Linked DNA regions of Homo sapiens: region 1 is linked to region 2. The links come from fine-mapping of genetic effects on gene expression. A gene starts in region 2. The other region holds a variant in brackets. All regions are shown on one strand. Distances are from middle to middle. Region 1 overlaps TSGA10IP (testis specific 10 interacting protein). Region 2 holds the start of DRAP1 (DR1 associated protein 1).

Region 1 (5,362 bases), 36 kb before region 2:
CACTGCCACTCATGAAGAGAGCACTCTAGCAGCAAGAGGGACCTTCGAGCCACACCCACATGGGACCAGGCATCCATCTGTGAAGCATGTAAGAGAGGCCTTGAGGTGTGGAGGCAGCACCCATGGACAGGAGGGGAGGGAAGACGCAGACAAGAGGACAGGAGGGGAGGGGAGACACAGACAAGACCCCAAGACCTGTACTGGGACCTCAGCGATTGTGCTGGGCCCGGTGGAAAAACTCAGCCTTGCTGGGCCATGCCACCCTTGCTGTGGCCCTGTGCCAGGGAAGGAACCATCCTTCATTGAGAAAAAGACATGGACTTGAAAACCCATGGCCCGGAACACAAGTTACTGCAAAAACGGCTTTCACCATTTAGGAAGGAATTTATGGCAGTTACAAGGGGAGGTGGGAAATGAGCTGGCAGTCCCTATCTTTTCTGTGATATTGTGTGCACTTTTCCTGCTGGATACTTTATGCTATTTCTGTTAGAAGTGACAGGAGCTGGCCGAGGCGGGCAGATCTCGAGGTCAGGAGATCGAGACCATCCTGGCCAACATGGTGAAACCCTGTCTCTACTAAAAATACAAAAGTTAGCTGGGAGTGGTGGCGTGCGCCTGTAATCCCAGCTACTTGGGAGGCTGAGGCAGGAGAATCGTCTGAACTGGGGAGTTGGAGGTTATGGTGAGGCGAGATTGCACCACTGTACTCCAGCCTGGCGACAGAGCGAGACTTTGTCTCAAAAAAACAATGACAGGAGCCCTGAGCAGAAAGGGAAGTGGTGCCTATGGGTGTCAGCCCCGTCCATCATCTCAGAATGGAAGGAGACACATCCCTCCCTCCCACAGGACAACCTCTTTTGTGCCTGCCCTTCCTAGGCAGGACAGAGTCTCCTGTTCCGCTCAGACAGCGAAGTTCATAGGCTGTAATGGCTGAGAGACTGCATGGGAGATACCTACTTATGCCTTAGCCCTCTCAAATAGAAAGTAAAAGGAGTGAGGTTGAATCACTCTTTTTGCTGCACCTGCCACTTGGAGTTCTGAACCTTACACTTCCTGCCTCACTGTGAAAACAAAACACTTGGCTGGGCGCGGTGGCTCACGCCTGTAATCCCAAAACTCTGGGAGGCCGAGGCAGCCAGATCACTTGAGGTCAGGAGTCTGAGACAGCTGGGGCAATATGGTGAAACCCTGTCTCTACCAAAAATACAAAAAAATTAGCCAGGTGTGGTGGCGCGCACCTGTGGTCCCAGCTACTCAGGTTGCTGAGGCAGGAGAATTGCTTGAGCCCGGGAGATGGAGGTTTCAGTGAACTGAGATCACACCACTGCACTCCAGCCTGGGCAACAGAGCAAGATTGGGAAGGAGAAAGGATCCCCCTAAACATTGGCCCAAGCAGTCCCCCAAAACACACTTGACCTTTCAGAGCCTCTGTTTCCAAATCTGTAAAATTGGGGTGATTAAGACTGAGCCTCGGCCGGGCGCGGTGGCTCACGCCTGTAATCCTAGCACTTTGGGAGGCTGAGGCGGGCGGATCAGCTGAGGTCGGGAGTTCAAGACCAGCCTGACCAACATGGAGAAACCCTGTCTGTACTAAAAATACAAAATTAGCCGGGCGTGGAGGCGCATGCCTGTAATCCCAGCTACTCGGAAGGCTGAGGCAGGAGAATTGCTTGAACCCGGGAGGCAGAGGTTGCGGTGAGCCGAGATCGCGCCATTGCACTCCAGCTTGGGCAACAAGAGCGAAACTCTGTCTCAAAAAAAAAAAAAAAAAAAGACTGAGCCTCAAAGAGTAGGTGATAAGAACCCCGCTGAGCCGTCAGTGGCCTTAAGGCAGGGCAGGACCCTCACCCCACTTGCCACGGACCAAAGGAGACAGGGTGCAGAAAAAGATGCCCTGCGCCCGCTGCACCCAGGAGGTGCTCAAATCAATGGCACTGGTTTTGGTCATATTTATTTGATTTATTTGTGTTACATGTGTCATTGGTTTGGGCTCTTGGGGGAAGGTCCTGGTGCCTTTCGTCTAAAAGCGGAGGATTTGAGTGCTCAGGCAGGGCAGCATCGTGGCTGGAACCCAATTCTGCTGCCCATGCATGACCTTTGACAAATTATTGAAGATCTCTGAGCCTCAGGTTCCTCACCGGTGGGGTTATGCAGGTGGAGATACCAAGGTAGGATAGTAAGGTGAGCGGGCCGTACTGACTTTTCCCCTTGTATGAAGCCCCAGGGGCTCCTTTCGCAGGAGCTCTGCAGCCCCTGTGCCCTCGTGCATCAGCACCTAACTCTTTTTTTTTTTTTTGAAACGGAGTCTTTCTCTGTCACCCAGGCTGGAGTGCAATGGTGCAGTCTCGGCTCACTGCAACCTCCGCCTCCCGGGTTCAAGTGATTCTCCCGCCTCAGCCTCCCAAGTAGCTGGGACTACAGTCGCGCGCCACTACGCCCAGCTAATTTTTGTATATATATTTTTTAGTATAGACGGGGTTTCATTACGTTGGCCAGGCTGGTCTCGAAATCCTGACCTCAGGTGATCCACTT[A/G]CCTCGGCTTCCCAAAGTGTTGGGATTACAGGTGTGAGCCACGGCGTACAGCCGAGTACCTAACTCTTTTGCAAGATAAGCAGTCTTAGGGGATACCAGATGGCTACAAGTTCCCTCATACCTAGCACAGCCCAGGAAAAAAAAAACAAAAGCCCCTTATTCATAATGTAGCTTCCCCGATCTCCAGCCAATCAGCACCAAAAGCCCAAGAAGCTATTAGCTACAAATTCCTGCCTTGGAGGGAGCTAAGGACTTCTCGGGGTTCCGCATACACAGCTAGGCTCAAGGTTTAGCTTATAGCAACATTTTCCTCGTTTTGATGGTAAAAAAACACACCCCTAGGTAGAGATTGTATATGCTAATGTTACATGTGATGCGTGTTGGAGCATGCAGATGCTGAGCGCATGCGCCCACCACAGGTCCACCTTTGCATACCTGACCTCACCAGTATTTTGTGACTAGGTATAAACAACTTCCATAAAAGGAATTCCTCTTAAGGCACAAGCTGCCGTCTCTCCCTCTGAGCAGTCCTCAGGGTGGGCTTTTTTTTTTTTTTTTGAGATGGAGTTTTTGCTCTGTCGCCCAGGCTGGAGTGTAGTGGCTCAATTTCGGCTCACTGCAACCTCCATCTCCCGGGTTCAAGCAATTCTCCTGCCTCAGCCTCCCGAATAGCTAGGATTACAGGTATGTGCCACCGCACCTGGCTACTTTTTGTATTTTTAGTAGAGATGAGGTTTCACCATGTTGGTCAGGGTGGCCTTTGCTTTGCAATAAACTTTTTCTTTTGTGCGGCCAAGGGAAGAACCTGACCTGGCCCACCAGCAGCAATACTCCCTGCTTCACGGACCTGTTAGGAGTCCAAAAACGTTTGCCCACAAATCTGCTTATTAGGAAAATGGTCACGGCCAGGTGCAGTGTCTCACACCTGTAATCCCAGCACTTTGGGAGGCTGAGGCGGGTGGATCACGAGGTCAGGAGATCGAGACTATCCTGGCTAACACGGTGAAACCCCGTCTCTACTAAAAATACAAAAAAAAAAAAAAATTAGCCGGGCGTGGTGGCGGGCGCCTGTAGTCTCAGCTACTCGGGAGACTGAGGCAGGAGAATGGCGTGAAGCTGGGAGGCGGAGATTGCAGTGAGCCGAGATCGCGCCACTGCACTCCAGCCTGGGCGACAGAGCGAGACTCCGTCTCAAAAAAAAAAAAAAAGGAAAATGGTCACAATATAGGAAGAGAACAAAACGCGACTCTTCAGCTGACTGTGAACAATGGTTGTCTCCCAGAGTGGGGTCACACGGCTGTTCACCTTCTCCAGGCATTATTTCTGTAATCTTTGAAATTTTATAACAAGCATGTCTGGCATTGGAAATCAGAAAATGAAGATTTGAAAGTGTGATCATACATGTAGAATATTTTAACCTTGACCATTCAACAGCTGCAGAGATTGTCATTATTAACTGGGTGGCCTTCGACAGACCCCTTCTCCCCATGCCTCAGCGTCCTTATCTGGAAACGCGGTGAAGTGGCCTGGTTAGCCCCAGGGAAGGCGAGGGCTGGTGCTCCTCGGTCCTGTAGACTGAGACCTGACACGGCCTCCCTGCCCTCTCCCAACCAGGCCTCCCGAAGCCCAGGCTCCCTACCTCAGCTCCTCCAGCTTGCGCTGGGCCGCCCCAGGGCCCCGGCTCCCTCTGGGTGCGTAGGCTGCCAGGCAGTGGGCCACCTGCCGCTGTACATGCTGTGTCCGGGCCCGCCGCAGCTCGGCCTGCTGCCGCTCCTCCTGCCGCTGCCGCTCCCAGGCCTGCAGCAGGCTCCTTGGGTGAGAAAGGGAAGGGGAATGAGAGGTTCACGGGCAGCAGGAGCCTCACGGAGGGCCAGGGGCTGGATAAGGGAATATGGAAGCCTGTGGGGAGGGGCTGCAGTGTCCAGAGCCAGTGTCCTGGGAGTAGGGTTTGTCATGGAAGTCCATGACAGAGACTGCCCTGGAGGCTCAGCCCTCGGTCCCAGCTCAAGGCCTTTCCCTACTCTTTCTAGAAGTCTCCTGCTTCCAGGCCAGGCACGGTGGTTCATGCCTGTAATCCCAGCACTTTGGGAGGTGGAGGCAGGCGGATCACCTGAGGTCAGGAGTTTGAGACCAGCTTGGTCATCATGGTGAAACCCTGTTTCTACTAAAAATGCCAAAATTAGCCAGGCGTGGTGGCATATGCCTGTAATCCCAGCCACTCAGTAGGCTGAGGTGGGAGAATTGTTTGAACCAGGGAAGCAGAGGTTGTAGTGAGCCGAGACCACGCCATTGTACTCCAGCCTGGGCAACAAGAGCAAAACTCCATCTCAAAAAAAAAAAAAAAAAGAAAGAAAGAAAAAAGAAATGAAGGGTGCTTTGGAAGAATTAATATTGTTAAAATGTCCATATTATCCAAAGCAATTTACAGATTCAATGCAAGCCTATCAAAATTCCAATGACATTTTTCACAGAAATAGAAAAAACAATTTTAAATTAATATAGAACCACAAAATACTCCAAACAGCAAAAGCAATCTTGAGCCAAAAAAAAAGGCCAGGCATGGTGGCTCACACCTGTAACCCCAGCACTTTGGGGCTGATGCAGGTGGATCGCTTGAGCCCAGGAGTTTGAGACCAGCTTGAGCAACATGGTATATATACACAATGGTATATATTGTGTATATATTGTGTATAAAAGGTGGTCTATATATACAATGGCATTCTTCAGCCTTAAACCCCATCTGTACTGAACATACAAAAAATTAGCCAGGCATGGTGGACCAGACCTGTAGTCCTAGCTACTCGGGAGGTTAAGGTGGGAGAATCACCTG
Region 2 (5,362 bases):
TATTTTTAGTAGAGACGGGGTTTCACCATGTTGGCCAGGCTGGTCTTGAACTCTTGACCTCAGGTGATCTGCCCGCCTCAGCCTCCCAAAGTGTTGGGATTACAGGCGTGAGCCACCGCACCCGGCCCCAGCTCCCAGTTTCATGTGGGGAAGGCAGGTGGGTGGATGGGATGGCAACCATGACGTCCTGCGCAGAGCCTGGAACAGACACTGAGATTCCCTTTTATTTTTTTTTTTAATAAATTTAAGAACAGCTCTACCTTCTCTCCTCCCCCCAGAGCAACTAAAACCAACTAAAAGGGGCTATGGTCTGGGGGGCAGAAGGCGCTAGGAGTCGTAATCTTCTTCGTCCTCTTCATCAGGTGCTGAGGGGCCCGGGGGCGCTGGGGGCAAAGGCAGAGTAGAGGCGAAGGGCAGGAAGGGTGTCGGGGGGCTGCAGGGCAGAAGGCAGGAGAGAGTCAGGCCTGAGCCCCACCGTGCCCTCCACAGGGGCAGCTGCCAAGACCCTCCCTCCCCCATCTGACCCTCCCACCACCACCCTCCAGATCCATGCGGCCAAGGCCCAGGGCAGCTCACGCAGGGCAGGCCCAGGCCCCACCCACGGGCCCTGGCAGGGTGGAGCAGGATCTTTCGGGAGAACAGTCTCCTGCCTTCAAGCCCTCCTCAGTTATTCTCCTTCCACCCCACAAATCTGCCACAATCAACAAGACCAAGGGGCCAGGGAGAACAAGAGGGGTAAGTTGGCTCTGGGGAGTCTGCCAGCACCCTCCCATGCCTCTGGGCTGCTCACCTCTGAAAGTGGGCAGAGGGGTGGCTGGCCTGGGGTGGGGGTTGTGATGTCTCCTCTTCCCCATCAGTATCTGTGTCCTCAGATTCATCCTGTGAGCACCGCAGAGGTCAGAGTTGACAAGAAAAGACACGAACCCATCACTGGGAGTGGCAGGGACAGCAGTAGACCCTCATAGCCCCAATTTACAAATAAACCAGTGAGCAAACAGGTTGCAGAAAAGGATGAGAGCTGGCCTCCTGCCAGTTCAGCCTGGGGCGAGGCTGCCTGTCCCATCACCAAGGGCAGGGCGAAGGGCTGGGGCCTCACTCACCTCCTGCTCCGAGTCTGTCCCGGACAGCTTCTTGTCCTTGCTTTTCGTTCCCATCCCACCGTTCTTCCGGCCGCCGCTGCCTGGCTTCCGGCCCCTTTGGGAAGGTACAGTCCATCTGCCCGGAGTGCTCCCTACTCCTTGGCCACCCCCAAGCCCTGTGGCCTTGGCCTTCCCCACTGTATGCCAGGCCCTGGCCCCACCTGCGGGCGCCCTTGTCCCCATCCATGTGGTTGTCTTCCCCGTCCCCCTGCATGTCGGGAACAGATGCCACCAGGTCCTTCAAGAAGTCAAACTGCTGCTCCAGCTCGATGCACTGCTTCCTGGAAGAGGTGAGGAGGGGCTGGCACTCAAGAGGGGCCCAGACACCCAAACCCGCAGTGGGTGGCAGCAAGGGGCCCCAGATGTCAGGCTGGAGCCCGGGCCGATCTCCGCTCCCGGGCCTGCCCTGCTTTACTCAGGTGGCTCCCTCTGCCTGGAAGCCCAGCCTCTCCTCTGCCAGTCTGTGGCCTTGCTGGTGTCCCGGCTGCCGCCCACCTCCCTCGCCACCCAGGCTCTGCCTTCCTCAGTGTGTGAACTCCCCGCGCCAAACCCGCCGGCCCCTCCCGGCTCCTCGCCGCTCACAGGTGGGATGTGGTCATGGTCTTCGCGTTCCGCGACTGGGTCACCTGGCAGGCCTTCTTCAACAGCGACTCTAGGAAGAGCTCGAGCGCCCGGGCTGAGGAGCGTCAAGGAGAACTCCGGGGCAGGAGAGGGCGACCCGCTGCCTCCCTCCCCCACGCCCCTCGACCCGGTCCGCCCCCGGCAGGATACAGATGATGACAGGCACCGCCGCCGCCACCTTCCCAATCTCTTCGTCCGTCTGCATGATCTTCTTGATCCGCGCCTGCGGGTGGGGGAGCAGAGTTCAGACCCCGTCGCCACCGTCCCCTAAGGGGGTGCTGGGGGAGGAAGGGGCATCCCCGGAGAAAGGGGGCGGGGGACACGGACGCGGGGAGGGCATGGAGGGGGCGGGGCGTCCAGGCCCCCGAACACCGCGGCGCGCCCGCCTGCCCAGCGGGAACTGGGCCCAAGCCACCCGGGAGCCGGGCCCACTCCTGCCGGGCTCTGCCACGTGCTCACCGGCGGGAACCGCGCGTTGTACTTCTTCTTCTTGCTCGGCATCTCGGGGCCTCTCTCGCCGCGTCGGGTCCAGCGCCGCCGCCCGCAGCCTCCCGGCTCCCGGGCCTGCTCGCCGCCCGCCCGTCGCGGTTCCCCTGGGTCCTGGTGCCGCCCGCTCCGCCCCCGCCGTTTCCCGCGGAGTCCTAGCGCCGCCGGTTAAGACGCCGCTCGCAGGGCCCTAGTGCCCTCCTCTTGAAGCCTCCTGGCCGGTGCGCGTCCCTCCCCAGTCTGGACCGCCGCTCCCGCCCGCCCCCAAGGCCAGAAGAGCGAACGTTGGCCCCGCCCCCCGCGGCCCGCCCCTCCCGGGGTTCCCGCGATGGCCCCGCCCCCGAGTCAGCACCTCCCCGTCGGCCCCGCCCCTTCCCCTGCCGGCCCCGCCCCACAGCGCGGCCGCTGCGGCCGCTGAGGCCCGCGGCTCCGCCCTGTGGCTGCGCCTGTCTATAAAGTTGTTGTTGAGGTGGCGCGGCGCTAAGATGGCGGCGGCGGCGGCGGCGGCCGTGGCGGGGGTGGGGCGCGGTGGCGGTGGCGCGGAGCCACGGCAGGAGCGGAGCCGGGCCCGGGGCTGGGCCGGCGTCGAACGCAGCGAAGGCCGGAGGTGACTGCGGGCGGCGGGAGGGGCAGGGCAGGGCCGGGGCGGGAGCACAGCTCGGGCCCGTGGGCGTTAATGGCGGCGGGCGCGGCACGGCCGGAGCCTGGCTCTCCTGCAGGCTCTAACAAGCCCTGGTTCGAGTCTGGGAACCGCCCCATTGGCCTCGGAACGGCCTGTAACCTCTCTGGACTTCAGCGTCCTCGTCTGTAAGTGGGCCCGATAACGCCTGCCTGGGAGGCCTGGCCTTACAGAGCCGGCCTCGGGAGCTGCGCGAACGTGCGCTTCTTTGCGTTCCTCTATTAAATGCCAGCGCACCGGATACCTGCCAGGAAAAGGGGGCCTTGGCAGGGCCGGGAGGTGTAGCTGGGGCTGGTTGCTCCCACGCCTGGATTCACCCTTCGGCCCTGCCACGCACTGCAGGTGTGACCTTGGGCAAGTCCTTTTTCTCAGCCTCAGTTTCCTTTTCTGTAAGTCAAGGAGAATAGTAATAACTGCAGCAACCCTTCTGGAGCGCTGACTCCTCAGGCATCTAATTTTCATAGCAGATCTACGGGACAGGAACAGTTGTTATCCCATTGTAAAGATGAGGCAACTGAGGCGCATCGACAGTAACTCTTACTCAAGGCCACAGTTTAATCCAGTGCCTGGCATCTGTAGTTATTGTCTCAGACCCTGCCCTGACTCGGTTCCCTCACAGCAGGATGGAACCAGGTGAGGAGCTGGAAGAGGAGGGCTCTCCAGGTGGCCGTGAGGATGGCTTCACCGCCGAGCACCTGGCTGCAGAGGCCATGGCAGCTGACATGGACCCCTGGCTAGTGTTTGATGCCCGCACAACGCCTGCCACTGAGCTGGATGCCTGGCTGGCCAAGTACCCACCATCCCAAGTTACCCGCTATGGGGACCCCGGTTCACCCAACTCAGAGCCTGTGGGCTGGATTGCAGTGTATGGGCAGGGCTACAGCCCCAACTCCGGGGACGTGCAGGGCCTGCAGGCAGCCTGGGAAGCTCTGCAGACCAGTGGGCGGCCCATCACACCGGGTACCCTGCGCCAGCTCGCCATCACCCACCACGTGCTCTCGGGCAAGTGGCTTATGCATCTGGCACCGGGCTTCAAGCTGGACCACGCCTGGGCTGGCATTGCCCGGGCCGTGGTTGAAGGCCAGCTTCAGGTGGCCAAGGTGAGCCCACGTGCCAAGGAGGGTGGGCGCCAGGTCATCTGTGTTTACACGGACGACTTCACGGACCGCTTGGGTGTACTGGAGGCGGATTCAGCCATCCGTGCAGCGGGCATTAAGTGCCTGCTCACCTACAAGCCTGATGTCTACACCTACCTGGGCATCTACCGGGCCAATCGCTGGCACCTCTGCCCCACTCTCTATGAGAGCCGTTTCCAGCTTGGGGGTAGTGCCCGTGGCTCCCGAGTGCTTGACCGTGCCAACAACGTGGAACTGACCTAGGGGGGCCAAATTGGGGAGACTGCCCACTCCCCCCTCCATGCTGGGGTTGGATCCTCCTGTCTTCCTCCTTGTCCTATGAAGGCCACACCCCCCAGCTCTGGGGACTCCTAGGTCACTTGGGAACTACCTGCATCTTCAGTCCCCTTGAACTTCTGCCCTCTGTTCAGGGCTGACACAAGCCCCACAGGCTGGGGGGCTCCGGTTCCCTGAGGGATGAGCCTTCAGCCTCCCTTTGTAATGCTGCTCCTCTCCACTGCCCAGCACCATGAGTTGGGTGCAGACACCTAGAAGGAGAGACTTCTTGGAACGCTCATCCCCCGCTATACCTCCCCTTCCTCCTGCATCTCCCCTTCTTTCCTTCCCCCTCAGGAGAGAGAAAACTTAGTGCTTCCAGCCCTTCTTGGAGCCTTCATGGTCCAGGGGTAGGGGCCCCACTGGCCTGAGCATGCCATTTTGAGGGGAGGGTAGTTGTGCCTACTTATCCCCTGGCAGAGGGGATGCCAGGACCATGGACATGAGGCTTGCCCATCCCTGCCAACTTACACAGCCTGTACCACTGTCCCCCCTTCCTTGGCTACTTTGACATGTGCCTGCTCCTGGCATTTCAATAAAACCCGGCTTGGGTCTGTGTCTTGAGTGTTTTTTAAAATACTGTCTTGGTGGTTACCTGCTTTCGTTGCTAGGGAGGGGCAGGGCCAGGAGAGACTACCCCCTTGACCCGGCCAGGCCCCCATAGCTGCCCCTAGCAATAAGTTGTGCCTCACTGCTGAGGTTAGGCACTGTCTCTAAGAACCTCTGCAAAACCAGCCCCACTTCCCCTCCATCCGTAATCAGTTTCTCAGAGATTTCCCATAATTCCAGGGGTTGACCCCTCCAGGAACGTCTAAGGGGCCACTGCTAGCCCTCAGGGTGCATTTGTGCATATTAGAGAAAGGTACCAAGTCCAAGCAGTCCTAGGCCGGGGTACGCGGTTTGGGGAGCAGAGGATGGGATGGGCTGGATTTCAGCACCTTAGGCTAGACATCCTTGTGCAGTGAACAACCTGCACAACCCTAGGT

Evidence for each region.
Region 1: its variant is fine-mapped to the expression of DRAP1 in whole blood (TOPMed, PIP above 0.99).

Annotation. Positions count from the first base shown.
Region 1 is chr11:65,952,547-65,957,908 of GRCh38, reverse strand. It overlaps TSGA10IP (testis specific 10 interacting protein), which reads right to left. Exons shown (of 8, transcript NM_152762.3): 5 at 4,172-4,342. Among named protein-coding and RNA genes, the nearest start is that of SART1, 6.5 kb to the left of the region's middle. The variant A/G (reference allele first, on the strand shown) is at 2,533.
Region 2 is chr11:65,916,401-65,921,762 of GRCh38, reverse strand. DRAP1 (DR1 associated protein 1) reads right to left here and starts at 2,337. Exons shown (of 7, transcript NM_006442.4): 1 at 2,220-2,337; 2 at 1,911-1,983; 3 at 1,722-1,815; 4 at 1,301-1,420; 5 at 1,101-1,194; 6 at 791-879; 7 at 200-433. The coding sequence starts at 2,261. The coding sequence ends at 328. It overlaps C11orf68 (chromosome 11 open reading frame 68), which reads left to right and starts at 2,701. Exons shown (of 2, transcript NM_001135635.2): 1 at 2,701-2,853; 2 at 3,545-4,953. The coding sequence starts at 2,732. The coding sequence ends at 4,304. RefSeq lists enhancers at 1,744-2,664, 2,665-3,584, 5,144-5,362, 5,304-5,362 and a silencer at 1,878-2,947.